Homo sapiens: one gene and its partners. The protein of the gene in region 2 purifies or fractionates together with the protein of the main gene of each other region. This does not show direct contact. Each region holds a gene or a part of one and is shown on either strand. Other genes may lie near its edges. The genes, in order: ARHGAP18, ANAPC16, SNX9, PLCB3, STK25, CCDC43 and ROCK1.

What was found.
Region 1: the proteins of ANAPC16 (region 2) and ARHGAP18 purify together in Homo sapiens (affinity purification with mass spectrometry; one large-scale study listed by BioGRID and IntAct). This does not show direct contact.
Region 3: the proteins of ANAPC16 (region 2) and SNX9 purify together in Homo sapiens (affinity purification with mass spectrometry; one large-scale study listed by BioGRID and IntAct). This does not show direct contact.
Region 4: the proteins of ANAPC16 (region 2) and PLCB3 purify together in Homo sapiens (affinity purification with mass spectrometry; one large-scale study listed by BioGRID and IntAct). This does not show direct contact.
Region 5: the proteins of ANAPC16 (region 2) and STK25 purify together in Homo sapiens (affinity purification with mass spectrometry; one large-scale study listed by BioGRID and IntAct). This does not show direct contact.
Region 6: the proteins of ANAPC16 (region 2) and CCDC43 purify together in Homo sapiens (affinity purification with mass spectrometry; one large-scale study listed by BioGRID and IntAct). This does not show direct contact.
Region 7: the proteins of ANAPC16 (region 2) and ROCK1 purify together in Homo sapiens (affinity purification with mass spectrometry; one large-scale study listed by BioGRID and IntAct). This does not show direct contact.

Annotation. Positions count from the first base shown.
Region 1 is NC_000006.12:129,703,678-129,707,177, forward strand, and holds part of ARHGAP18 (rho GTPase-activating protein 18), read right to left. Parts: intron 1-3,500. UniProt on the Homo sapiens protein: Rho GTPase activating protein that suppresses F-actin polymerization by inhibiting Rho. Rho GTPase activating proteins act by converting Rho-type GTPases to an inactive GDP-bound state.
Region 2 is NC_000010.11:72,233,012-72,236,360, forward strand, and holds the end of ANAPC16 (anaphase-promoting complex subunit 16), read left to right. Parts: coding exon 1-105; 3' UTR 106-2,849; downstream 2,850-3,349. UniProt on the Homo sapiens protein: Component of the anaphase promoting complex/cyclosome (APC/C), a cell cycle-regulated E3 ubiquitin ligase that controls progression through mitosis and the G1 phase of the cell cycle.
Region 3 is NC_000006.12:157,906,746-157,910,245, forward strand, and holds part of SNX9 (sorting nexin-9), read left to right. Parts: intron 1-2,919; coding exon 2,920-3,045; intron 3,046-3,162; coding exon 3,163-3,280; intron 3,281-3,500. UniProt on the Homo sapiens protein: Involved in endocytosis and intracellular vesicle trafficking, both during interphase and at the end of mitosis. Required for efficient progress through mitosis and cytokinesis. Required for normal formation of the cleavage furrow at the end of mitosis.
Region 4 is NC_000011.10:64,254,530-64,258,029, forward strand, and holds part of PLCB3 (1-phosphatidylinositol 4,5-bisphosphate phosphodiesterase beta-3), read left to right. Parts: intron 1-218; coding exon 219-287; intron 288-368; coding exon 369-509; intron 510-704; coding exon 705-784; intron 785-866; coding exon 867-920; intron 921-1,011; coding exon 1,012-1,087; intron 1,088-1,191; coding exon 1,192-1,292; intron 1,293-1,846; coding exon 1,847-2,013; intron 2,014-2,088; coding exon 2,089-2,235; intron 2,236-3,500. UniProt on the Homo sapiens protein: Catalyzes the production of the second messenger molecules diacylglycerol (DAG) and inositol 1,4,5-trisphosphate (IP3).
Region 5 is NC_000002.12:241,495,378-241,498,584, forward strand, and holds part of STK25 (serine/threonine-protein kinase 25), read right to left. Parts: intron 2,973-3,207; coding exon 2,858-2,972; intron 2,311-2,857; coding exon 2,239-2,310; intron 2,002-2,238; coding exon of another isoform or gene 1,975-2,001; exon of another isoform or gene 1,184-1,974; intron 1,158-1,183; coding exon 1,021-1,157; intron 325-1,020; coding exon 285-324; 3' UTR 1-284. UniProt on the Homo sapiens protein: Oxidant stress-activated serine/threonine kinase that may play a role in the response to environmental stress.
Region 6 is NC_000017.11:44,686,977-44,691,112, forward strand, and holds the start of CCDC43 (coiled-coil domain-containing protein 43), read right to left. Parts: upstream 2,801-4,136; 5' UTR 2,778-2,800; coding exon 2,574-2,777; intron 2,038-2,573; exon of another isoform or gene 1,965-2,037; intron 1,318-1,964; exon of another isoform or gene 1,202-1,317; intron 1,048-1,201; exon of another isoform or gene 878-1,047; intron 773-877; exon of another isoform or gene 674-772; intron 1-673.
Region 7 is NC_000018.10:21,042,314-21,045,813, reverse strand, and holds part of ROCK1 (rho-associated protein kinase 1), read left to right. Parts: intron 1-346; coding exon 347-522; intron 523-1,627; coding exon 1,628-1,712; intron 1,713-3,104; coding exon 3,105-3,249; intron 3,250-3,500. UniProt on the Homo sapiens protein: Protein kinase which is a key regulator of the actin cytoskeleton and cell polarity.

The DNA of each region.
Region 1 (3,500 bases), on a different chromosome or scaffold from region 2:
CCCAGTTGGACACCGGGTGCAACCTCTAATAATTCAAGAAGAAACTATGGATAGGGTTTTTAAACCACAGTGAAGAAAATGCCTTTACAAAGGACTCTTATGTCATGAAATTGAAGAAGAGATTGATCTGGAAAACAATTATCCCCATGGACAGGTTTAAATCCATTTAGTCACTAAATTCTATGAAATTAGAATGAGGAAATACGCTTTAGAAGCTAAGGTTAGAAAAAATAAAATTTAAATATTACACAATTGCATTATAAAAACTCATTACCATCCCTTTTTTTCAACAACAAAAAAATATATATATATGATCAGGTAATAATACACTAATTCAGAATGAAGAAACTTTTTAAATGGTATACTACATAGGTTTTTAAAATCCTGTGAAGATTCATGTAAAAACACTGAACTAATCAAGACAGCCAGCCATGTTCTTACTTTAATGTTTATCTCAAAAAGATATTTCTCAAAACTGAGCTTCAGGCCAGGCGTGAGGGCTCACACCTATAATCCTAGCACTCTGGGAGGGCGAGGCAGGCGGATCACTTGAGGTCAGGAGTTCAAGACCAGCCTGGCCAACATGGTGAAACCCCATCTTCACTAAATATACAAAAATTAGCCAGGCATGGTAGCAGGCACCTGTAATCCCAGCTACTGGGGAGCCTGAGGCATGAGAATCGCTTGAACCTGGGAGGTGGAGGCTGCAGTGTGCCAAGATGACCCCACTGCACTCCAACCTGGGTGACACAGCGAGACTCAGTATCTGAAAACAAAAAACAAACAAAAAAAAACTGAGCTTCATGTCTCGCTCAACTTACCCCAGCCCCCTTATGCCCCTCTGCAAGTCCTCCCTATCTAAATTAATGATCACTTTAACATTACAAGTTTCTTAGGGCAAAAACCTTGAATCTTCAGGTATTCTCATTTGTCCATCTCCTACAGGCCCTAATGTCAAAAGATTCCACTGCTCACCCCGTTCATTACTAAAACAACTGAAACCCTGGCCCAAACCACCACTGCCTTAACCTATTAAGCAGTACCACTGCTTCTACACTCTATAATCAATATAACAGCCAGAGGGACCTTTTAAATGTGCTCTCTTCCTCCACTGCTCAAAACCCACTCCCTCAATGGCTTCCCATCTTACTTTCAGCAAAAACTCAAGTCCTCAAATGTTCTATAAGGTTATCAACTCCCACCTTGCTTTCTTCTTCCTCCCTCCTCCTTATCCTGACCCCTGCAGTCATGCAGGGCTCTTTGCTCTCTGGGTGCTTGGTTTCAGACTTACTCTATCTAGGCTTATGGCTTCTACACTCTCTACCCACTATCTGCCTTAAAAACTCTTCTTCTAATTCTTGCCCCCAGATATTTTGGGGCTCACCTGTCACCTGCTCAGGTCTTTATTTTCCCCTCCAGGCTACCCTCCCTGCACCCAGATGTTTGTCTGGTTTATTTCCCCCCATTACAACCCCAGTATTTAAACAATTGCCTGACACACAGTAAGAGAGAGCTCTTATATGTGGAATGACTGAATGATTATGCTTGCAGAACCAAGGAATGGGTGAGACATGAACAAGTCAAGAACTGAGATAAGCTTATAAAGATGATAGTCCTCTTCCATTTGGCATGCTGGGCAGTAGTAGTTCTTAAAGCAGAGGAAGGAAGCATGGAGACAGGAGTGAGTCCAGCTGCCAAAAGAGGATCCACCCACATTCTATCTTGCCATAGAGTCAATATTTGCAGACCTCAATGCCCATCAATACCCCCCAAGAAAGGCCTGGTATAGGCAATTGTTACCAGTTCAAATCATAAATGGTGCTATGGATCAGGATGATATTTCCAAGGTCTTTCAAACTTCAAAGGCCTAAACTTTTACATTATGGTTCATTCTCAAATATGTCATTTTTTAAGCATATGGATAATGCCCATGTTTCTTAACACATGACAAAATAATATTCAGAAAAACGCTTCTGAAACAAGGGAGAATATTCTATATCCTGCAAAACTCAATCCTTTCTTTCCTTTTCTTTACCTAGTATTAAGGAAAGTAGCAGCTAGCTACAAACCAGACACTCTTCTATGGGCTTGACAGAGGTCATCCCACTCAGTTGTCTTAATCAGGTGAGTAATATTATGAAGTTCAATTTATGGGTAGAGAGATAACTCCTCCAAGGTCACACTGCTAATGAATGAGAGAGCTGGGATATGACCCCAGACAGGTTGGCCCCAGAACCCAGGGTTTCTGGGTTTATGTCACCCCTGTGTAGTGCCTCTTGTTTCTGCCTACCCAATACCAATGGCAAGTTGGGTCAACAAGACCTTACATGATGAATGCCATACATTTATTCAGAGAAGGCATAAAAATATCTCACTCATCAGTCCATTCAGTTAGCTAAGGAATTAAAAGGCCCAATAAAAAAGGTTACTTGACATTCATATTAAAATATTAGCAAAAAATATGCAAAGCAAACAACCATTTCTCTTAAAATGGGAAGGTAAGAGAGAACAGTAAGAATAGACAAAACACAATATTCTTCGAAAAAATTCTTTTCAAAACTAAATATTAAGAAGCCTGCTTGAAAAACAAGTAAACAAAGTCTTATAAATATAGCTACTCATAAAAAGTGGTTTCCTTTGGAAACATTCAACTGTGTACAAGTCGGCCATGACAACTAATGTTAACATATTTCTTCAAATCCTCATGTTTTGAGGAGGAAACATACAAAAGAAAAACAGGATTCTATAAAGGGAGAGGCTCTAACCAGGAGTGGGAGGAATTCCTTAATCTGACATTCAATGACTGTTTTCTGATAAAGAGGGATAATGGAATGGAGAAAATTTAGCTAACAAATTACTTCCAAAAATATTAATTCCCTACTATCTCAGCTTTTCAAAAGACCAAATGGTAATAAAAAAGGACATGGAGCCGGGTGCAGTGGCTCATGCCTGTAATCTCGGCACTTTGGGAGGATGAGGTGGGCAGATCATCTGAGGTCAGGAGTTCGAGACCAGCCTGGTCAACATGGTGAAACCCCGTCTCTACTAAAAATACAAAAATTAGCCAGGGGTGGTGGCACTCGCCTGTAATCCCAGCTGCTTGGGAGGCTGAAGCAGGAGAATCACTTGAGCCTGGAGACGGAGGTTGCAGTGAGCCCAGATCGTGCCACGGCATTCCAGCCTGGGTGACAGAGTAAGACTCTGTCTCAAAAAAAAAAAAAAAAAAAAAAGACTTGGTATGGCTAGGCTAAAAATCAAACACTTTCAGGCTGGGCGCAGTGGCTCATGCCTGTAATCCCAGCACTTTGGGGGGCCAAGGTGGGCAGATCACCTGAAGTCGGGAGTTCGAGACCAGCCTGACCAACATGGAGAAACCCCGACTCCACTAAAAAAAAAAAATACAAAATTAGCCAGGCGTGGTGGTGCATGCCTGTGGTCCCAGCTACTATAGAGGCTGAGGCAGGAGAATAGCTTGAACCTGGGAGGCAGAGGTTGTGGTG
Region 2 (3,349 bases):
GCTCGGATGGAAAAACTAGCTGGTTTGGTAGAAGAGCTGGAGGCTGACGAGTGGCGGTTTAAGCCCATCGAGCAGCTGCTGGGATTCACCCCCTCTTCAGGTTGATACTGCCTGGATGGTCACCTCTGGTGCGCAGCAAGTGCAAAGCCAGTGGGGGACTTTCTCACAGCTTACATAGCCATCCAGAGATCCACAGCTACGTCACTGAATTGTTAATGCACATTTGTACTTGGTTTCTCTGTATCTATTCACAGGCAACAAATACTTATATGTGTGATCTTTCAGGGAATGTTTTGTTTATTTGTTTTTAAAAGTATTGGGAATCAGATTAAGACAATCAGTTTCAGAGAACCAGGAGGTTTGGGGTTAAGAGATACTCAAAAATTTTCACAAGCCAAGTAGGGCATATATCAGATTTGGCCAACTGAATGGCGTCTGTCCTGTCATCCATATGGTGCCTGGAAATATTTACCAGTCAAGGTCAAGGTCAGCATCTGTGGTTAAAAATATAGCATTCTGACCTAAAAAAGTTATTTTGCAGATGAATGTGTTTTCAACTCAGGACCTATCCAAATGAGGAATTTTTAAATATTCTTTTTTTTTTCCTATTTTTAGACATCAATTCTATAGATTCTGACTTTTTCTAACCTCTTATAGACATGCCAAATGCTGGCAAAAAGAAGTGCTTTTTGGATATGGCAGCACTTGTAAAAATAAAGCAGTAAGCAAAATCCTTTTAAACACAGAAATCCTGAGTTCTTCTCATTGGTGGACTCAAGCAATTCTGTAGCAAATAAATCCTTTGAAAGAGCTCCAAATTGGTGGCATTATCCTTTCAAAATCTCAGGGATTTGGGATGAAGTGAAGAGGTCAAATTACTTTTTAGAAGAAGGGAATCTAAAAACCATCTCTCCTAAACAAATGGTAGACTGGCTTTACTTAAGGGATATTTGTCTTTATAGGAGTACATAAATTTATCTTAATGATATTTAAGTAGTTTTTTTTTTTTTTTGAGACGAAGTTTTGCTCTTGTTGCCCAGGCTGTATCGCAATGGCGCGATCTCTGCTCACTGCAACATCCACCTCCCAGGTTCAAGCAATTCTCCTGCCTCAGCCTCCCAAGTAGCTGGGATTACAGGCACCCGCCACCACACCCAGCTAATTTTTTGTATATTTAGTAGAGACGGGGTTTCACCATGTTGACCAGGCTAGTCTCGAACTTCTGACCTCAGGTGATCCACCTGCCTCAGCCTCCCAAATTGCTGGGATTACAGGCGTGAGCCACCTTGCCCAGCCAATTTTTTTTTAAAGAGACATGGTCTTGCTATGTTGCCCAGGTTGGTCTTGAACTCCTGGCCTCAAGAGATCCCCCCAACCTTGGCCTCCAAAGTGCTGGGATTACAGGCATGAGCCACCGCGCCTGGCCTCAAGTAAGTTTTTATACCATGATAGGGGAAAACCTGGAAGGCTAAGAGATGTGCTGTTTTCCTTCATGGGACCCCACTTTCCACAGTAAACAACTGGTATAATCATTTATTACGTTGTATGCAAATTTTGCCTTAGACAACATTTGTCTGGTTCCTTATTAATAACTTGCATCTGATCTGCTTAGAGTTGCTTAATTATAAGTAAATATAATCCCAGTAGCATTTAGCCTTAATCTCAAGAGTTCAAAATGTTTAACACATTCTACCTGACGGGAGGTGGTGACCTCATTCAGTCGGTTAAGAGCCTGAGCCCTGTGAAGTTAAACACCTGCTCATGGTCACATAGCCCAGGCAGAAGAAAATCTCGGACTTGGAATAGATCCCAGTTGCCTGATAATTCATCTCATTATTGCCTCTAAAGCAAATTGGAGACTGGGCACAGTGGCTCCCACCTTTAATCCCAGCACCTGGGGAGGCTGAGGTGAGTGGATCACTAGAGGTCAGGAGTTCAAGACCAGTCTGGCCGACATGGTGAAACTCAGTCTCTATTGAAAATACAAAAATTAGCTCAGTGTGGTGGCACACACTTGTAATCCCAGCTACTCAGGAGGCTGAGGCATGAGAATCGCTTAAACCCAGGAGGCGGAGGTTGCAGTGAGCTGAGATCACACCATTGCACTCTAGTCTGGGTGACAGAGCGAGACTCTGTCTCAAAAAAAAAAAAATAAAGCCGGGCGTGGTGGCTCACGCCTGTAATCCCGGCACTTTGGGAGGCTGAGGCAGGCGGATTGCCTGAGATCGGGAGTTCGAGACCAGCCTGGCCAACATGGTGAAACCTTGTCTCTACTAAAACTACAAAAAAAATTAGCCAGGCGTGGTGGCGGGCGCCTGTAATCCCAGCTACTCAGGAGGCTGAGGCAGCAGAATCGTTTGAACCCGGGAGGCGGAGGTTGCAGTGAGTGGAGATCGTGCCTGTGTGCTCCAGCCTGAGCAACAAGAGCGAAACTGTCTCAAAAAAAAGAAGAAAATAAATAAATAAAAATCAGAGCACAAGAAGTACCAGTCCACCAACTCACATTTTCTATATTAATAATTCTTAACTAAAAGAAGTTCCATATTCGACAGCATTTTAGTTTTTTAATAGTACTTATTAGCATCAACCATCTTGATAATCACCAAGGGAAAAATTAAAAATACCTAGACTGCAATAAACCTTTAAATTGGATTTTCAGTGAGAATTTAGAAGCAATCACTACCTTTCTCGTTTCATTTGTGTAACCATGCAGCATAGGCACTGTGTTACATCATCTTTACGCTTTGGTATTTGAACTTATTACAGAATTTTTTCTCTAAATTGGATGTTTCTTTATATGACCTTGGAAACTGAAGTGATCTTAGCATTAAACAAAAATGCTTTTTGAAGCACCTTTCTCATTGATCACTTAGCTGCTATTTTAGTCTTACCAAGAATAAGACTCTCACAATTTTTTAAAGAGAGTACCTCCCTCTCTATACCTTTTTGTCAGTCATTATGTTGCATCGTCCACAACGCCTGTTACTATGCTTTGGGCTCAAAGATGGTCCCAGTTGCTGATCTGTCATCTGTCTTCTCTTGTGCCAGTCACTCACAGGCATGAATTATAATCCTCTGAATAACACAGCAAGATACGTAATACCCCCTAATATAGAAAAGGAACTTGAAGCTCAGAGCAAGTGTCACTTGCCAAGGCTGCACAGCTAAGTCAATGGCCAAATCTGGATTTAAGTTCAACTCAGCCAGAATCCAAAGCAGCTTCTTTTAGATTCACTATGCCACATCCCACCAAACCCAACCCAGCACATTGTATTAGGAAAAATCCTAAAACTTTTGATTAAATGGTAAAAGGAAGTAACTACCTGGAGAAAATAAGGCTTCCGCTACC
Region 3 (3,500 bases), on a different chromosome or scaffold from region 2:
AATGTGACACAAGCCCTTCGGTTTCATTCCACATTTTGATTGGTGGTAGATTTTCTGTCTAGGTGATATTTAGTTGTAGATTCCCAAATGAAATTCTGGAAAAGAGAACTGTAGCTATCTTCTGATCCTATTGACTTAACCCTGTAACAATTAGATTGGGAACCTGAAGCCTTGAGTGTTCTCATCCTGGACTCAATCGAGGATGAGGAAACATCTGGTCTTATTCTGTAGTCTTTGGAAACTTGATAAAATTGCAGGAATAGTATTAGATTCTCTAATTACTTGTGCCTGCATGTTTGAAAAACTCCAAATCCTGGAAGCCTCCAAGCTGAAGAGCTGTAACCAAGAGCCCTTTTTATGCTTTTTCCCTCAAAGCAAATTTGGGATAATTAACTTCTGAGTAGTTATATTAAAGATTTTTTTTTCCTGTTTTCTCTGGACTTAATAAAAATTGAACATGTACCATTATTCTTTTCATGACATTTAAAACTCCTCAAAATCAAGAGCGCACAGCTCTGCCTCAGTTTTGTTTTTTTGTTTGTTTGTTTGTTTTTAAGACAGAGTCTCACTCTGTCACCCAGGCTGGAGTGCAGTGGTGTGATCTTGGCTCACTGCAACCTCTGCCTCCCGGGTTCAAGCAATTCTCCTGCCTCAGCCTCCCGAGTAGCTGGGATTACAGGCATGCACCACCACGCCTAGCTAATTTTTTTTGTATTTTATAGTAGAGACGGGGTTTCACCATATTGGCCAGGCTGGTCTTGAACTCCTGACCTTGTGATCCGCCCACATTGGCCTCCCAAAGTGCTGGGATTACAGGTATGAGCCACTGCGCCCGGCCTGCCTCACATTCTTAAAGGGGACTTTGTCCCAGGTTTGCAGTGGTGGTACAGAGCTAAGGGTTCCAGCCTTTCATTGACCGGCAAGTTTTAAGTAGAACTGCACCCATGCACCCAGTAGGCAGGTCTGCCTGTGTGGGCGTCTATACATGGAAGAAGCTGAGGAAAGCCACCGCGTCTTCAGGAGGCCCAGAGAAAGCAGAGACTAACTCTTTGCTCTAAAAGTGCAGTAACCTTGCCCACTCATGAAACAGAGCCCCGTGAAATTGGGCCTTAGCCAAGCACAGTTGCTGCTCTCGGCCCACTCACTGAGGGAGGTCCCGAAAGTCATCTCCTCTGCAGCTTTCAGCTAGTTTCTTGGATCTGGGCTCTCCCTGAGGGGGTTATAGTAATTGTTCTCAGAGATTTTAGTCTCTTTTTAAACTACTCTTATCCTTGGAGTAGGTCACCTTCCTGACCTAACAGCCTCTGAACTTTAATATCCCAATCCGCTTTTCCCATCTTCCTCTTAAAAAAAAAAATTAGGACTGGGTATACCTTTTTTTCCTTTTTATGTCTGTCTGGCCTTGCCTCTCTGAGGTCTCAGCCGAAACAAATCTCTCTTCCTTCAGCGCAATCTGTGTGATTTTTCTCATTTTCTTTTTACTTTCTTATGGTACTTTTTCAAGTCTGCAAGAATAAAACCTGTTCCATAAATTATTTCATTCTCCTTGAATCTCTGAATGAATCTCTGAGTGAATCTGCTTCCTGAATAGTGGTCCTTTTACAGTCCATGTGTTTGTTTTTTCATTCTCTTCTTGGATTATAACTCAATTATTTTTCATTTTCAAGCCAAGAAGATAGATAACATTCTCAGTATAATAAGGACTTCTATTGCTCTGAAATGTGTTTTGATAAGAGCTACTGTCCTGCAGTCTGAACCTCTAGAATCTGTCATTGTGATCAAAGTTTATGAAATGAATGAGGCAGAACCAACTTGAGACTATTGGTGACTCAGGTAGTGATTCCAGAAGCCTGTACATGAGCTCCAGCATCCAGGTTCCTCTGCAGCTGCCCCCATGGCCTTGGATGCTGTTTTAAATAAGATGAAAAAACCAGGTTTGGGACAGCAGACCTATTGTCACCTAGCAGTGCCTAGAAGAAATGATCCTCAGGCTCAAAACTTACACGAGGTCTCTACACCCCCACATAGAATTTAGCTGGTTTCCCTTCCTCACCTCCCACCACAACTAAAACCCCAGTGAGCTAGTGTAAGCCTCGCCTGAATTTGTGAACTTTTGCCCTAGTCACAGATAGAAGAGAAGGCCAGTGAGAAAAGAATGGAGGCCTACCCTCTTCAGGCAAGCCTTGCCCAGGTGGACGTGATACCCGGGGGTTGGAAGTGAGCCAGCCCACTGTGCTTAGGCACATAGCAGTCCACGGAAGAAAACAGCTAGCCTGGTTCTTGCTTTTAAGATGTAGTACCTCCCCCTCCCCCCACCTTGCCACTAGTAGTAAAACAATGACTATCAGGCTCTGGCCAATCTGATTAATCGTTTCTATGAGCCAGAACAATGCTACTCAAAGTATGGTCCACAGACCACTTGCCCATCTGAAAACTGCTTGTTCCTGATCCACCGTGAGATAGGTACAGTACATGAGAATATTTTGAAAACTTGAGGACAATTTGGTATTGTTGAAAAATCAAAATGTGTAATGTTATATTTCACCAAACTATTAGTCTGTGATAGATTCGAAATTTTTAAAAACTAGTCCTTCATCACGTGTAGCTTGAGACAGCTAGACTAGAAAGAAACATTGTCTTGTAACCAGCACTGTCCTTGGGAGAGGGAAGCTGGTGTCTCCTCTCCATGGGCTGAGCTACTCACGTGGGAGCAGAAGGGTTTCCCACAGGTGTGTTCTTTAAACATAATATCTAACAGGAACAGAAACCATTGAACCATTTATGTACCTTTCAAAGAGGAACAAGAATGACCCTCCAAAGGACTTCTCATTCTGAAAAGAATTACTTGCTGATTCACATCAATTGTATTTATTATTTTTCCATGTAACAAAATTACTTCTTTCTGGAACATTGGCATAGGTTGGAGATTATGGCCCAATGTGGGTTTATCCTACCTCTACTTTTGACTGTGTGGTAGCAGATCCCAGGAAAGGCTCCAAAATGTATGGTCTAAAGAGCTACATCGAATATCAGCTAACACCTACTGTAAGTATCCACGTTATCAAAAGCAGAATCATGTTTGGATCACTGATTGCAGCTTGCTTTTTTCTTCATTTTCTAGAGTTGGCATTGGTAACCTTTTCTCTTTCCCTTATTTTGTAGAACACTAATCGATCTGTAAACCACAGGTATAAGCACTTTGACTGGTTATATGAGCGTCTCCTGGTTAAGTTTGGGTCAGCCATTCCAATCCCTTCTCTTCCAGACAAACAAGTCACAGGTGAGTGTGTGTAATGCTAAACCCAGGATGACAAATAGAAAGACTCCAGTCAGATTATCTTCCTGTAAGTCAGTGATGGCATTTTCCATCCTGTAGAGCAGCAGGATGCAGGAGTTGGAAACAGTAATTAAATACAGCTATGAAGAGAGAACCATTGCATGTTGTACATCTATCTGGAAGTTGCCTAAACGTCTCACAAGAACGTTTAATGTGCAAATCA
Region 4 (3,500 bases), on a different chromosome or scaffold from region 2:
GACCCCTGTCCCAGACCCCTGCCCTGCCCGTGGGGGTGGGGCCCGGCTGCAGGCTGACCTCTCCCACTGCTGCCCAGACAGGAAGTGCTCAGGGCAGGAGCTGAGGCTGGGGCTATAGCCAGGGGCTGGCCATTCCCTGGCCTGGGTAGAGAGCTTGGAAGCTCCTGGCTATTGCCCTGCAGCCTCTCATACTCAGCCTGGCATCTGGTTCCCCCCAGGAGGTGGACACACTGGACATCAGTTCCATCAGGGACACACGGACAGGCCGGTACGCCCGCCTGCCCAAGGTGAGTGATGAGCCTGGGAGTGAAGACCACAGCGAGGCTGTGCGGGAGCCCCCTCTTCACCCTTCGCTGTCACCTACTCAGGACCCCAAGATCCGGGAAGTTCTGGGCTTTGGGGGTCCCGATGCCCGGCTGGAGGAGAAGCTGATGACGGTGGTGTCTGGGCCAGACCCAGTGAACACAGTGTTCTTGAACTTCATGGCCGTGCAGGATGACACAGCCAAGGTGGGCTGGCACCAAGGGGACGAAGGGGGAGTCACTGTCTTATTCTGTGAGTCGGCCGTCACTTACCGAACACCTGCTGTGTTCTAGGCTGCTCTGTGACCTACTGTGTACCAGAGGCAGTTGTGGACCTGGGTTGTGGCTGGGCAGCCCCTGTGTCCCCCACTCACCGCCTCCCCGTGTATACTGGCCCCCCAGGTCTGGTCTGAGGAGCTATTCAAGCTGGCTATGAACATCCTGGCTCAGAACGCCTCCCGGAACACCTTCCTGCGCAAAGCGTGAGCCCCAGGCCACCCGAGGGGGAGCCGGGGGGTTCACGTGGCCGTTTTCAGGGTGTGACCTCTTCATCTGCCTTCCCAGATACACGAAGCTGAAGCTGCAGGTGAACCAGGATGGTCGGATCCCCGTCAAGAAGTGAGCACCCCTTCCCCCAGCACCTTCCTCCTGCCCTGACCTTGGTGACCTTTGTCCTCCACTGACCCTGAACCCCTCCTGCCCGCATCAGCATCCTGAAGATGTTCTCAGCAGACAAGAAGCGGGTGGAGACTGCGCTGGAATCCTGTGGCCTCAAATTCAACCGGGTGTGTGGGGTGGGGACAGGGGCGGGGTGGGGTGTCACGGTGGGCACCCACCCTTACGGGGCTGCCCGCCCCTGGCTTCTCACCCCACACTCCTCGACCTCCAGAGTGAGTCCATCCGGCCTGATGAGTTTTCCTTGGAAATCTTTGAGCGGTTCCTGAACAAGCTGTGTCTGCGGCCGGACATTGACAAGATCCTGCTGGAGATGTGAGTGGGCCCGGCCTGCCTCACAACCCCTGTGCTCTGTGTTTAGCTTCTGCTTAGCGTGCCTCTAGCTCAATGGGGAGAGGGGAAACTGGTGGGCCGGGTCCTGGAGCGCCAGGGGGCGGAGGGGTGCCCAGGGAGAACCTGTCGGTGATGTTCCTGTACTCAGACCCGCCGTTTCTGCCCCTCAGTTACAGGCAGCTCTGGGCTAACCCTGTGCCAGGGTTGGTTTAATCAGCCCACTCTGCAATGGGGTCCAAGCCTCAGGTGTGTTGTGAGGTCTGGAAGCGAGGGGTGGTGGGCTGACCACTTGGCAGCTCCTAAGCCCTGGCCATTGCTGGTGCCCACTAGTCTGCTGCCTTGACAATCCTGAGTAGTCAGGAGAGTAAAGGGGGAAACTGAGGCCCAGAGGTTGGCCATGACTCACCCAGAGTCCCACTCACTGGGTGCCAGATCCAGGGGCAGGCCTTCTGACTCCCTTGCCCAGGGCAAGGGCTTGGCGACGGGGTGGGAGCCCTGCCAGGCTCCATCCTGACCCAGCTTCCTGTCCCCTCCAGAGGCGCCAAGGGCAAGCCATACCTGACGCTGGAGCAGCTCATGGACTTCATCAACCAGAAGCAACGCGACCCGAGACTCAACGAAGTGCTGTACCCGCCCCTGCGGCCCTCCCAGGCCCGGCTGCTCATCGAAAAGTATGAGCCCAACCAGCAGTTTCTGGAGCGAGGTGAGCTGGCTGGGGTGCAGGTGGGTGGGGGCAGGTGGGACCCCAGCTGACCCTGCTGATCCTCTCCCACCCCAGACCAGATGTCCATGGAGGGCTTTAGCCGCTACCTGGGAGGCGAGGAGAATGGCATCCTGCCCCTGGAAGCCCTGGATCTGAGCACGGACATGACCCAGCCACTGAGTGCCTACTTCATCAACTCCTCGCATAACACCTATCTCACTGGTGAGTGGGGAGCAAGGGTGGCACCCGTGACCTCTGCCCTGTGACCCTTGCACAGCCCCACTCCTCCTGGGGCACAGTCCTTTTGGCCCATTTGCTCATTCATTGGCCAGTGCTGGGGATGCAGGCAGGGAACAGGCAGCCAGCCCTGAGCAGTGGGGCCTCATGGTGGCTTTCCCAGGGAAGGGCTGGAACAGCTTGTGTTAGGGCCTGCAGCAGGAGAGACTTCAGGGTCCTTTTTTTTTTTTTTTTTTTTTTTTGAGACAGAGTTTCGCTCTTGTTGCCCAGGCTGGAGTGCAATGGCACGATCTAGGCTCAGCGCAACCTCTGCCTCCCAGGTTCAAGCGATTCTCCTGCCTCAGCCTCCCAAGTAGCTGGGATTACAGGCATTCGCCACCACGCCCGGCTAATTTTGTATTTTTAGTAGAGATGGGGTTTCTCCATGTTGGTCAGGCTGGTCTCAAACTCTCAACCTCAGGTGATCCGCCTGCCTCGCCCTCCCAAAGTGCTGGGATTATAGGCATGAGCCACCTCGCCCAGCCTGCAGGGTGCTTTTAAGAGGCTGGAAGGGGGTTGGGTGCGGTGACTCATGCCTGTAATCCCAGAACTTTGGGAGGCTGAAGCAGGCAGATTACTTGAGCCCACGTTTTGAGACCAGTCTGGGCAACATAGCATGACCCCATCTCTACAAATAATTTTTAAAAAATTAGCTGGGCATAGTGGCGCATGCCTGTGGTCCTAGCTGCTTGGGAGGGTGAGGTGGGAGTATCGCTTGGTTCTGGGAAGGTTGAGGCAGGAGTAAGCTGTGATTGCACCACTGCACTCCAGCCTGGGTGACAGAGTGAGAGACCCTTTTCTAAAAAAAAAAATTAAATAAATAATAAAAAAGCAGAAAGGAAGCTGGTGCGGCAGGGTGCAGAGTGCTGGAGATAGGTGCCTGCTAAGAGAGGGAGAGCAAGGCAGGGCTAAGCCCAGGGGCCTAGAGGCACTTGGATTCATCCTGGGTGTGAGGAAGAGGCTTTTTGGAGGGTGAAGCAGAAGAGGTGATGTGACCTGATATGATATGTTTTTAGAAGGATGATGCCAGGTGCTCTATAGAGATTGGATTGAGGCCAGGCACAGTGGTTCACACCTGTAATCCCAGAACTTTGAAAGGCTGAGGCGTGTGGATCACCTGAGGTCAGGAGTTCGAGACCAGCCTGGCCAACATGGTGAAACCCCATCTCTACTAAAAATACAAAAATTAGCCAGGCATGGTGGTGGGCAAC
Region 5 (3,207 bases), on a different chromosome or scaffold from region 2:
TGAGGGCCACGCCGGCGGCTGGAGCCCCCGTGAGCAATACTGCTGGGCCAGGAGAGGGAGGAGGGCAGTGGGCATAGAGAACAGCGTCCCTGACGTGCACAACAGCACACTGCAGGGGTGGAAGGAGACGGTGACCTGGTGACCTGGCATGTGAGGCCCACGGGATCCGACGTGTCCCTGCAGGCACGACATAGCACAGGGCACCTTCCAAGTCAGCACAGTTCTTATGGAGCTCAGAACAAAAACAAACGACCTTCCGTCCCCTATCTGAACAGCAGTGCGCTTCAGCGGGTGGATGTCAGGTGGTTTCTGTTGTGTGAAAACCTGCAGAGAGAAGAGCCCACTGCTGCGTGCGTGCACCTCTGTGCCCAGGCTCCTGACGGCCTCTTGGGTGTGCAGTCTGCGGTGGCAGCCCTGACAAGCCACCGCACCACGTGGGTCTGAAGGTGTCCCCAATGCACAGGGTCTCAGGAGCAGCAATGACTGGCCCAGACCCCACCCCCAGAGCTGCTGCCCAGGGGCGCCGGGAAGGGGTCCCTGTGTGTGGACCAGGACTTGGCGCATCTGCCGGCGGCATGGCGGTTGGACCCTAAGTCCGTTGGGCGGTGGAGGGCCCAGCATCTGTCCTGCCCTGTCTCTTTGCTAAGGACTCGAGTCAGCACAGGGGCAGCTCTGACGTTTTGCCACCAGCGTGTCAGAGTAGCTCCCGGGAGCCACCAGGTGGAGGGGCAGAGGCCAGCTGAGGACAGCCATGTGGCCACTGAGGCCGGGACCCTGAGACACTGCCTCAGACCCTTAGACTGGAAAGGCCCTGCCCACTCTCTCCAGCCCCAAAGTCTCCATGGCCCTGTGAGCTGGGTCCAAACAAGGAAGAGGATGCCACGCCGCGCCTTCCCAGAGTGAAGCGAGCCCATGTAGTGCCAAATGCAGCCACACCCACGAGTGAGCACTGGACCTCACCCCACGTCCAGCTTCTTGGTGGGGGTGCTCTCCCCGACCCTATGGCACGGCCGCCCTCACCTCTGCACTCGCTCCACCAGGTGCACCATCAGCTTGTCTGAGATGCCGGGGCAGGACTCCTCGGCCAGGCTGAAGGCGTTCTCCAGCTCCTCCAGCGCACCCACGCTCCCGCCGCTCTGCTTGTGCTTCTCTTTGAGCTGTGAAAAGACCACCACGCCTGACCCTGGACCCCAGGACAGGCCTTCAGGGAGCCTGCTCCTTTGCTCGGCCACAGTGATGCCGGAGGCCTTCAGGGCTCTCGCCTAGGAGCCACACCCGGGAGCCCTTCAGCAAGCCGGGAAGTGAGGTGGCCCAAGGAAGCCTCTGCCCCTGCCCTGCCAACGGGGACCCTAGTGGTCCTTCCCCACAGCACCTACCTTCCCCCTACACTCCGGGGAATCTCGGACCTCGGTTCTCAGGAGGGGACCAGATGGCTTCCTCCCAGCCGAGGGTCATGGAAGCCACTCAATGGGTCTAATCAGACCCAAAAACACGAAGCCCAGAAACCCCCAAAGCACACGGCACCGCCAGGCCCAGATCTGACCTCCATCAGGACACCAGCATCTGAGCCTCCTGTCACCGGGTGTCACCCACCCTCGGGGGGCTGTGGCTGGATCAGCAGGCTGCCCAGGACCTGGACCCGAGTGGCTGCTTCCCGCTGGGGCCTCCACATGGGCTGGGGCCAACGTCCCTCGACCGTGCTCCTCCCTTTGCCGTCCTCAGGCAGGCCCTGCCTTCACCACCTCTCACCCACATCCTCCATCCTCCCTCCCCAGGCTCCAGGTGGGGCTCCTGGAGGGCACACCTGGGCCCAAGCCCGCTGGCCACGCCCTGGGCACACAGATCCTGGCTGTATCACATTTCTGAGGACGGTGCTGACTGCCCATCAGCAGGTGACGTTGATGCAGGGTCACGTGACTAACCAGGGCGGCACCTGCCCGGGGATGGACCCCGACTAAACCTTCTCTGCTTTCTCTATAGAAGGATCATCTGTGTTTGCACCTGAAGAAAAAAAAGTCACCCTAGGAACCCAGAGAACCTTGGCAGGTCTGGGAGTACAAAAGGAGTCATTGCAGCAGATTCTGCTCCTTCCACTCAGAAAACCCAGCCCACAATCAGCTGCAGGAAAGCTAGAAGCTGAAACCACCCCACAGTGCTGTGAGGGAGACATCTCCGTGCAACAGTGTCACAGCCTTGTCCTTGACGGGACTCCAGGCCCAGTCCCAGCCCCATCCTCACCTCTCCGAAGACGGGCCGGACCAGCGTGGACAGGCACTGGGACCTCGGCTGCCTCTTGACGGGCTCCGCAGGCTGCAAAGGAGTGGAGGCCCAGGGTGAGCAGGGCAGTGCAGGTGACAGGCAGGGCACTCCCATCCCTGCCCAGGCTCTAGCCTTGAAGAGACAGAGGCTGGGAGCAGCCTGTCGGGGCACATGTCCAGGGCCGGCCCCAAAACCATCAAGCCACCCGGATGGCCTGACTCTGAGGGCGACTCCCACCCTCTCCTGACTCTGAGGGCCTGTGACTCCCACCCTCTCCTGACTCTGAGGGCCTGTGACTCCCACCCTCTCCTGACTCTGAGGGCTTGTGACTCCCACCCTCTCCTGACTCTGAGGGCCTGTGACTCCCACCCTCTCCTCACAAATTTGGCTCCAAACAGGCCCTCATCTTCCCGGCACATGCTGGGGCTCGGGGTCTCCACACCAGGCCTAGTGCCACAGTGGGCTTCAGACCACCCCTGCCTTTCCCAAGCTCCTTGTCCAAGCTCCAGACACTGGGTGGACAAAGCTGGGTCCCGCATCCAGCCCATCCCACGGCCCCAGGGGTGCACAGAGGGCAAAGGCCAGGCCAGGAACAGACCTTCTGTGAACTGTGCAGGGCCGTCCCCTTGTGAAGCTTGCTGTGTGGACTCGGCCGGATGGTAGGGGGGAACGTCCAGATGGGGCCCTGCTCCCCGTCCTCCGCCTCGCCATCACTGAAGAGGATGAGGAGTTGCCAGGGCCAGTGGGGAGAGGGCCAGGAGGCATGAGGGCCTCAGGGCACACCTCACGGCCAAGGGAAACCCGAGGTACCAGACGGGGCTCTGCCAGGCCACGGGGTCCAGCTGATGCCTCAGCAGGCCCTGTCCTGCAGCCTTGAGGGGGTCCCTGCCCAACACTATATCTGGTCACCCTCACCCCCAGGGCCCACGCCCCTGCTTCTGGAGTGGG
Region 6 (4,136 bases), on a different chromosome or scaffold from region 2:
TCTAAATTCCTCATATTAAATCCTAGCCCAAGTCAGGCACAGAGGCTCACATCTGTAATCTCAGCACTTTGGGAGGCCAAGGCAGGAGGATGTCTTGAGCCCAGGAGCATAAGACCACCCTGAGCAACATGGCAAAACCCTGTCTCTACAAAAAAAAATTTTTTTTTTTTAATTAGCCAGGCATGGCTGGGTGTGGTGGCTCACGCCTATAGCCCCAGCACTTTGAGAGACTGAGATGGGTGGATCACTTGAGGTCAGGAGTTTGAGACCAGCCTGGTCAACATGGTGAAACCCCATCTCTACTAAAAATATAAAAATTAGCCAGGCATGGTGGCATATGCCTGTAATCCCAGCTACTCGGGAGGCTGAGAATCACCTGAACCCAGGAGGCAGAGGTTACAGTGAGCCGAGATTTTGCTACTGCACTCCAGCCTGGGTGACAGAGTGAGACTTTGTCTCAAAAAATAAAACATAAAACATAAAAAAAAAAGTTAGCCAGGCATGATATGTGATGGCAGGTGCCTGTAGTCCTAGCTACTTGGGAGGCTGATGAGAGGGGATTGCTTGAGTCCAGTCGTTCAAGGCTACAGTGAGTTATGATCACATTACTATAACAGAGCGAGACTCTCTTAAAAAAAAAAAAAGGCAAACTAATGTCTACCTTTATCAACAGAAACAGCTCCAAATAATGATGGACTGATCAAGAAGCTGGTACCAAGAAGTCTCAAAGTTATTTCAACAGCTTCATGGAGTGTTTAGAAACTTCCCAGCTGTAAATAAAAACTACCTTAAATTGCTTGCCTCCTACTCTTTCTCCCTATAATCTGTAATGTTGTGGTCCAAAAAAAGAATTGATTCCACTGTCTTGTATTTCCAGTGAACTTCCAAGCTTCCTCACAGGCTGTGTTAAAGTTTTCCCATTTATAAGCCAATCTTGCCAGAAGAGGCTCTGGAACTCAAATGGGTTACTGCCAGAAGAATCTGGGACAGCTGCACTAGTGTTATATTTCAACCATGTACCCAATCTATGAACTGCTTCCACCAAATGTGAGTGATTTTTTCCTAGCACTTGTTTCCGCTTTCACAAAACACTTTTGGATTTGAAAATGTTTCTGCCTTCTACCCTTTTAAAAAAATGAGATATGAATATGTACATTTATATCTATATATATTTATACTAATTTTTTTTTCTTTGAGACAGGGTCACTCTGTCACCCAAGCTGGAGTGCAGTGGCACAATCACGGCTCACTGCAGCCACAGCCTCCTAGGCTCAAGTGATCCTCCCACTTCAGACTTCTGAGTAGCTGGGACTACAGGTATGCGCCACCATACCTGGCTAATTTTTTAAATTTTTTTGTAGAGACAGGGTCTTGCTATGTTGCCCAGTGTGGTGTGGAACTCTTGGCCTCAAGCAATCCTCCCACCTCAGCCTCCCAAAGTGGTGAGATTACAAACATGAGCCACTGTGCCCCACCTCATGGTACATTTTGATTCTATTACTAGCCTTTCAAAATTGGTTTTGAGAATAACAAAGAACCCATTTTTCTAACCTGTCCATTGTAATAAATGCCAGAGGATAAAGCCTTTGATGGACAGACAGGTGGCTCTCACAGTAGCAATCAGGTATCCAGGATCTCCTCTAATCCATGAATGCAGAGACAACTCTAGCTTCTACAGCATTTAGTGATGATTCAAGTAAATTTTATTTTTAAGCTTGTATTTAAAAGGAAACAATTTGTTAGACAGCCACAGGTAGCACCTACAACCAATTTAATCTGTAATAACCAGTCTAATAAGTGTGTATGTTGGAGGTGTGGGAAGTGAAGATGAAGGCAGCAGAAATGATCAGGTTGAAAAAGTGGACATCTGGGTGACTTACTATGTAAACATAGCTTAAAGTACACATTTCTGAATACCTTGCTTCTAACAGGCTAAGGACTAAGTTTCTCTCTCTTCGTTAAAGCTCTGATCTCTCTCATACCCTCCTTCCCACCACCAATGATTACTGTAAATACTGTAATGGATCAAGCACGACGTTTGCTTCAGTTCTGCGTGGGCATGAAAAGACTTCTACCACCAGCTTACCTTTTATGGACTCCTACATCCATATAAGAATCAAAAGGGCACTTCCTGCAGGCTTCTGTCATGGGACAGCCCTGGGAACTGCCTTGTAATAGGCACAGACCTCCCAAGAGCATTTTAATACCCCCAGTGAACACTGTAAACGGATGGAAATGGAATTGGTCGTCAGATATTTATGATAACATTCCCATTCTGACATTTCAATGCCTTCGGAAGAACCCTCCTCGGCTCACTCACAAGCATCGGAGAGGGCCTTGTCCCCAAGAATACGAGAAAGCCCTTCCTCTCTGTGTACCTGCAGCTTTCAGGCTTCCCACACCTGGTTGGGGAGCAACCTCCTTCCCCCGCCGCCCAGATATCAGAGGAGTATACCTCTCCCAGGTGAGACCACTGAGCCTCTGGGATACCCGGTAGGGGAGGGAGGGTGCAAAGTACTGACAGGTCCTCAGATGCTGGCCAGAGGCTGAAGGAATGTGTCCAGGCTACTCACCAGGAAAGCAGAGAGGATCCCCTGCAGAGCGTCCAGCTTCTCTTCTTCCTCCTCCTCCTGCAGGATACCCAAGATGTAGGCTCCATAAACGGCTCGGTCCACTCCCAGTGCCTCCAACCGTCCGTCCAGCCAGGAGCCAAAGCCGCCGCCTCCGCCATCGCCTTCGCCAGGGGCTATCGCGGCCACTTCGCTGGGCGCCGCCATCTTGGGGTCAGGGTCCTGCAAGCCCCTAGGGCGCCTACCGCAGTGCCTGACGGGCCGCGCCGCAGGTCCACCGCGCATGCCTGAAGAGGAAGCCCAGGCCCGTAAGTGCAAAGAGCGCAGCCGTGTCGGCCGGCTTGAGAGTTTTGTGCTTTCTAGATGAAGCGCGTCTTCGCATACGTGCGGTCGCGTGATCTCACAAGATGCTTGGCATGTGAGTATTCTTAACAGACTCATTCTACAGTTCGGGAAGTTGAGAGAGGTGCAGTAATTTGGCCAAAGTCACGCGGCTAATAACTACCCAGGACTGGAGCTCAGCGTGGATGCCATCGCTTCCTCCACCCGACCGAGCTGCCTTCCCCGCGCTTTCGGGGGATGCTGGCCGCCCACTCCCACACAGCTGTCTGGCAAGAACCTCCTGACAGCCTGGAATACCCTCGTCGTCGCTACCGACGGCTACCACCTTCACCTGTACAAGCCCTTCCCTGTCAAAGTAAAGGTTGCAGAAAACCTTCCCTGATTCCATGGTAGGCACTCAGTAAATAAACAGGCAACCTCAAGTTATTTCTTCCACTCATTGATTCAACGCGTGCACGGGACTATTCTTTGAGAAGCGTACCCCACCCTCTGCTAGGCACTGTGCCAAAAGCTTTTCATGCATTATCTCTTGTAATCCTCCCTACAGCCCTGTGGGGAGATGCTTTTATTGTCCACATTTTAAAGATAAGGAGACAGGCCGGGCGCCATGTCTCACGCCTGTAATCCCAACAGTTTGGGAAGCCGAGGCGGGTGGATCACCTGAGGTCAGGAGTTCGAGACCAGCCTGGCCGACATGGTGAAACCCCGTCTCTAGTAAAAATACAAAAATAAGGCCGGGCACGGTGGCTCACTCCCGTAATCCCAGCACTTTGGAAGGCCAAAGTGGGCAGCTCACCTGAGGTCTGGAGTTCGAGACTAGCCTGACCAAAATGGAGAACCCCCGTCTCTACTAAAAATACAAAATTAGCCGGGCGTGGTGGGACATGCCTGTAATCCCAGCTACGTGGGAGGCTGAGGCAGGAGAATCGCTTGAACCCAGGAGGCGGAGGTTGCGGTGAGCAGAGATCGTGCCATTGCACTCCAGCCTGGGCAACAAGAGCGAAATTCCGTCTCAAAACAAACAACAACAACAACAAAAGCCAGGTGTGGTGGCGCGGGCCTGTAATCCCAGCTACTCAGAATCGCTGGAACCCGGAAGGCGGAGGTTGCAGTGAGCCAAGATCGCGCCGCTGCACTCCAGCCTGAGCGACAGTGAGACTCCATCTCAAAAACAAACAAACAAACGAACAAACAAAATCACTAAAGATAAGGAGACAGATATGG
Region 7 (3,500 bases), on a different chromosome or scaffold from region 2:
CAAGTTAAATTAGAAATACAGTATTTCTTTGCCTAGGAGATTTGTATATTTACTGAAAATATTACAGTTTAAAAAAATTCTCAGTAAAAGAAATTCAAATAGTGTAGAAAATTATGAAGAAAGGATATCTCCATGTAACTCTTCTGAATAATTATGTTATAGTCATTTTGCATATACAAGGGTCTTTGTGGCATTTATGTTTGTCTTTTTTTAAAACTAGACTTGCAACTTCTGTAATTTGATTATTTTACTTAAATCTTTTATTAACATTTTTGCCACTTTTTAAGTGAAACAATTTTGTTTAACATTAATGAATGTGTTTTGTTTGTTTTTTCTATTTGTATAGCTTTTTTATGCATTCCAAGATGATCGTTATCTCTACATGGTGATGGAATACATGCCTGGTGGAGATCTTGTAAACTTAATGAGCAACTATGATGTGCCTGAAAAATGGGCACGATTCTATACTGCAGAAGTAGTTCTTGCATTGGATGCAATCCATTCCATGGGTTTTATTCACAGGTAAAGATAAAAGTGCTTTAAATTTTCTCATTTGTTGAGGGAAATAGCTAAAAATAACTTTAACATTTCTTACTCTCAGTTCACCCATTCTTCTTCCGTATGACATAAGTGACCTTTCAGAACTCAAGACTCTGGCCAGGCGCTGCCTCACGCCTGTAATCCCAGAGCTTTGGGAGGCCGAGGCAGGCAGATCTCTTGAGCTCAGGAGTTTGACACCAGCCTGGACAACATGGTGAAACCCATCTCTACAAAAAAAAAAAAAAAAAACACAGGTGTGGTGGCATGCACCTGTGGTCCCAGCTCCTTGGGAGGCTAAGGTGGGAGGATCGCTTGAGCCTGGGAGCAGAGGTTTCAGTGAGCTGAGATCTAGTCACTGCACTTCAGACTGGGTGACAGAGTGAGATTCTATGTCAGGAAGGGGGGAAAAAAAGAACTCCAAACTTTGAAGTTTATAATTTTAGCATTTCAATTTAATGTTGATATAAATGTATTCTTTAATATCCCTTAATCTGATCATATAGCCTTTAAATGGTGTTCTGAAAAGTAAAACTTGTAAACTAGTTTTCTAAGGTATGTGCCAGGAGTTAAACACTTTGATGTTAATTTTTTAAATATGTAACTTAATTTGCTTTTAATTAGTGAATAGGTCGTATTTATTCATTAGACGAATAGTTTCATTTGTTGTACAAACACTGCTTGAATCCTGTGTGCAGTTGCTGTGCCTACATGTCAGGGATCAAAAATGAAAGTGACTTAGACCCTGCCGTGGGGTTTTTTTATGTACTTACCTATCTAATATGTTTCAATCACCTTTTATGTCTGAGTGTTGTATTTTTGATGGTCTGTCTCTCTCAAATGATTTGATTTTCCCTCTGAAAGAATGAAACTTTTAAAAAAGGAATATATATGTTTTCTTCTGAGGCATTAACATATAAAGAAGTTTCTTTGATGAAATTTAATTTATAGATGTGGATAGAGAACACATACAGATCAAAGATGGCCTTACCTAGATTGAGGATGCTTGACCTAAAATAACTGCCTCATATAATTTTTACAGTGTCTAATCTGTTTCAGAAAATACTGTACTATTTTTTCCCTCCTGCAGAGATGTGAAGCCTGATAACATGCTGCTGGATAAATCTGGACATTTGAAGTTAGCAGATTTTGGTACTTGTATGAAGATGAATAAGGTTAATTAACTAGATTTTAATTTAGTTTTTGCTAATTCAAGGTAGATGCTTCTTTAGAAAATGGTTTAAGAATTCTTTAGAAAATGGTGTAAGAATTTACTAACCATAGCTGGACTTGTCCAGAATTAATATGACCTTATTTGTTGAACTAGATACCATGGTTTCAATGTTGTATTAGTAACTTGTTAGTGATTTATTTTTTCCTCTCTATTTAGGGTAAATATGGATTGCCAGATTTACTAAATCCTTCATAACAACTCTAATATACACTACTGGTAACTAGGAATGGAATTAGCTTAAATGTCACTAAATACTTATGCCAGTGTTAAAATTAGACTTTCATAAAAATTGGATTCCAGTAATGTGTGTATTTTTTAGTGTTTTACTTCAGTTAACATATAAAAGATTTTACTGCTTATTTTAGGAGTGAGTCTTAAAAGATACCTATCCTCACTGTTTATATAATAAATAACATATACACAGCTGTATATGTATATACATATTATGTATATGTATATACATATACATTATGTATATGTATATACATATAATAAATAACATAAATAAATATGTTATTTATATAATAAATAACATATACACAGCTGAAGGAGCTGAAGGAGCTGTGTATATGTTATTCCTTCACTTCATATACACAGTGAAGGAAACACTGCATGAGAACTTCTGTATGAACATTTAGTTATAATGCTGTTTCATTAATACCAGCGAATATAGGTAACAGCTAACAAGTCTCTCAGGTTTGTTGGGGGAGGGCAGTTAAAATTCACATCAAATAGACATTCAGTGTGCTTTACACTATTATGCCCTTTTCCCATACATATGCTTCCCCAGTTTGTATTTGTACAGTCAGCTTTTGTATGTTTCTTTTGTAGTTTCAAACATAGTTAAATAGCTATTTTAGTAGAAAATAATGAAGTCAGTGTTTATACCAATATGTTGTAAAATGCCCTATCCTATGAACTCCCCAGTGTATTTGCACTGGCCTGTGTACTTGTTCTCAGCAGTTAAATGGTTTCATGATATTGGCACAACTTGGGGAATAATAAATGTGGCAGTATGTTTTTCTAGTGAGCATTATTACAAAATAATCACTGGTGTGTGTATATATGTGAATACACATATAATGTGTGTGTATATGCATTCACATGTATACACATACATACATTATATGGTATATATGTATATGGTGTGTATATAGTATGTATATATATGATTAAGCTGTGTTAATTTTTGTCAGGTTTCCATTCAGTTTTAATATATGATATTTTATAGCTCAAAGATTTGGAGTCCCATAGGTAATATTAATAAGAAAGTCATTTTAAATAATTGAGACTTTATATCCTAATTCAAAATTTGACCTGCCGCGCTTTTTAGGAAGGCATGGTACGATGTGATACAGCGGTTGGAACACCTGATTATATTTCCCCTGAAGTATTAAAATCCCAAGGTGGTGATGGTTATTATGGAAGAGAATGTGACTGGTGGTCGGTTGGGGTATTTTTATACGAAATGCTTGTAGGTGAGTAAGGAAGATTTTATGTCTCTCTATTACAGTTGTTCATCTCAAAACTTGCCACTTGGCTCTTTCTAATATATTTATTATATTAAGCAATCTTGATTTTATTTGTGGGTAATAAACATGATCCAAACCTGCTTCGTATGTGTTTTTAAAAGCATTTAGAGGCTTAGAGCAACTTTGTGATGTGTTCTTTTATATATTAGGTGTATGTTTTTAGTTTAATACATACCTAATAATCTTTTTAAACGGGT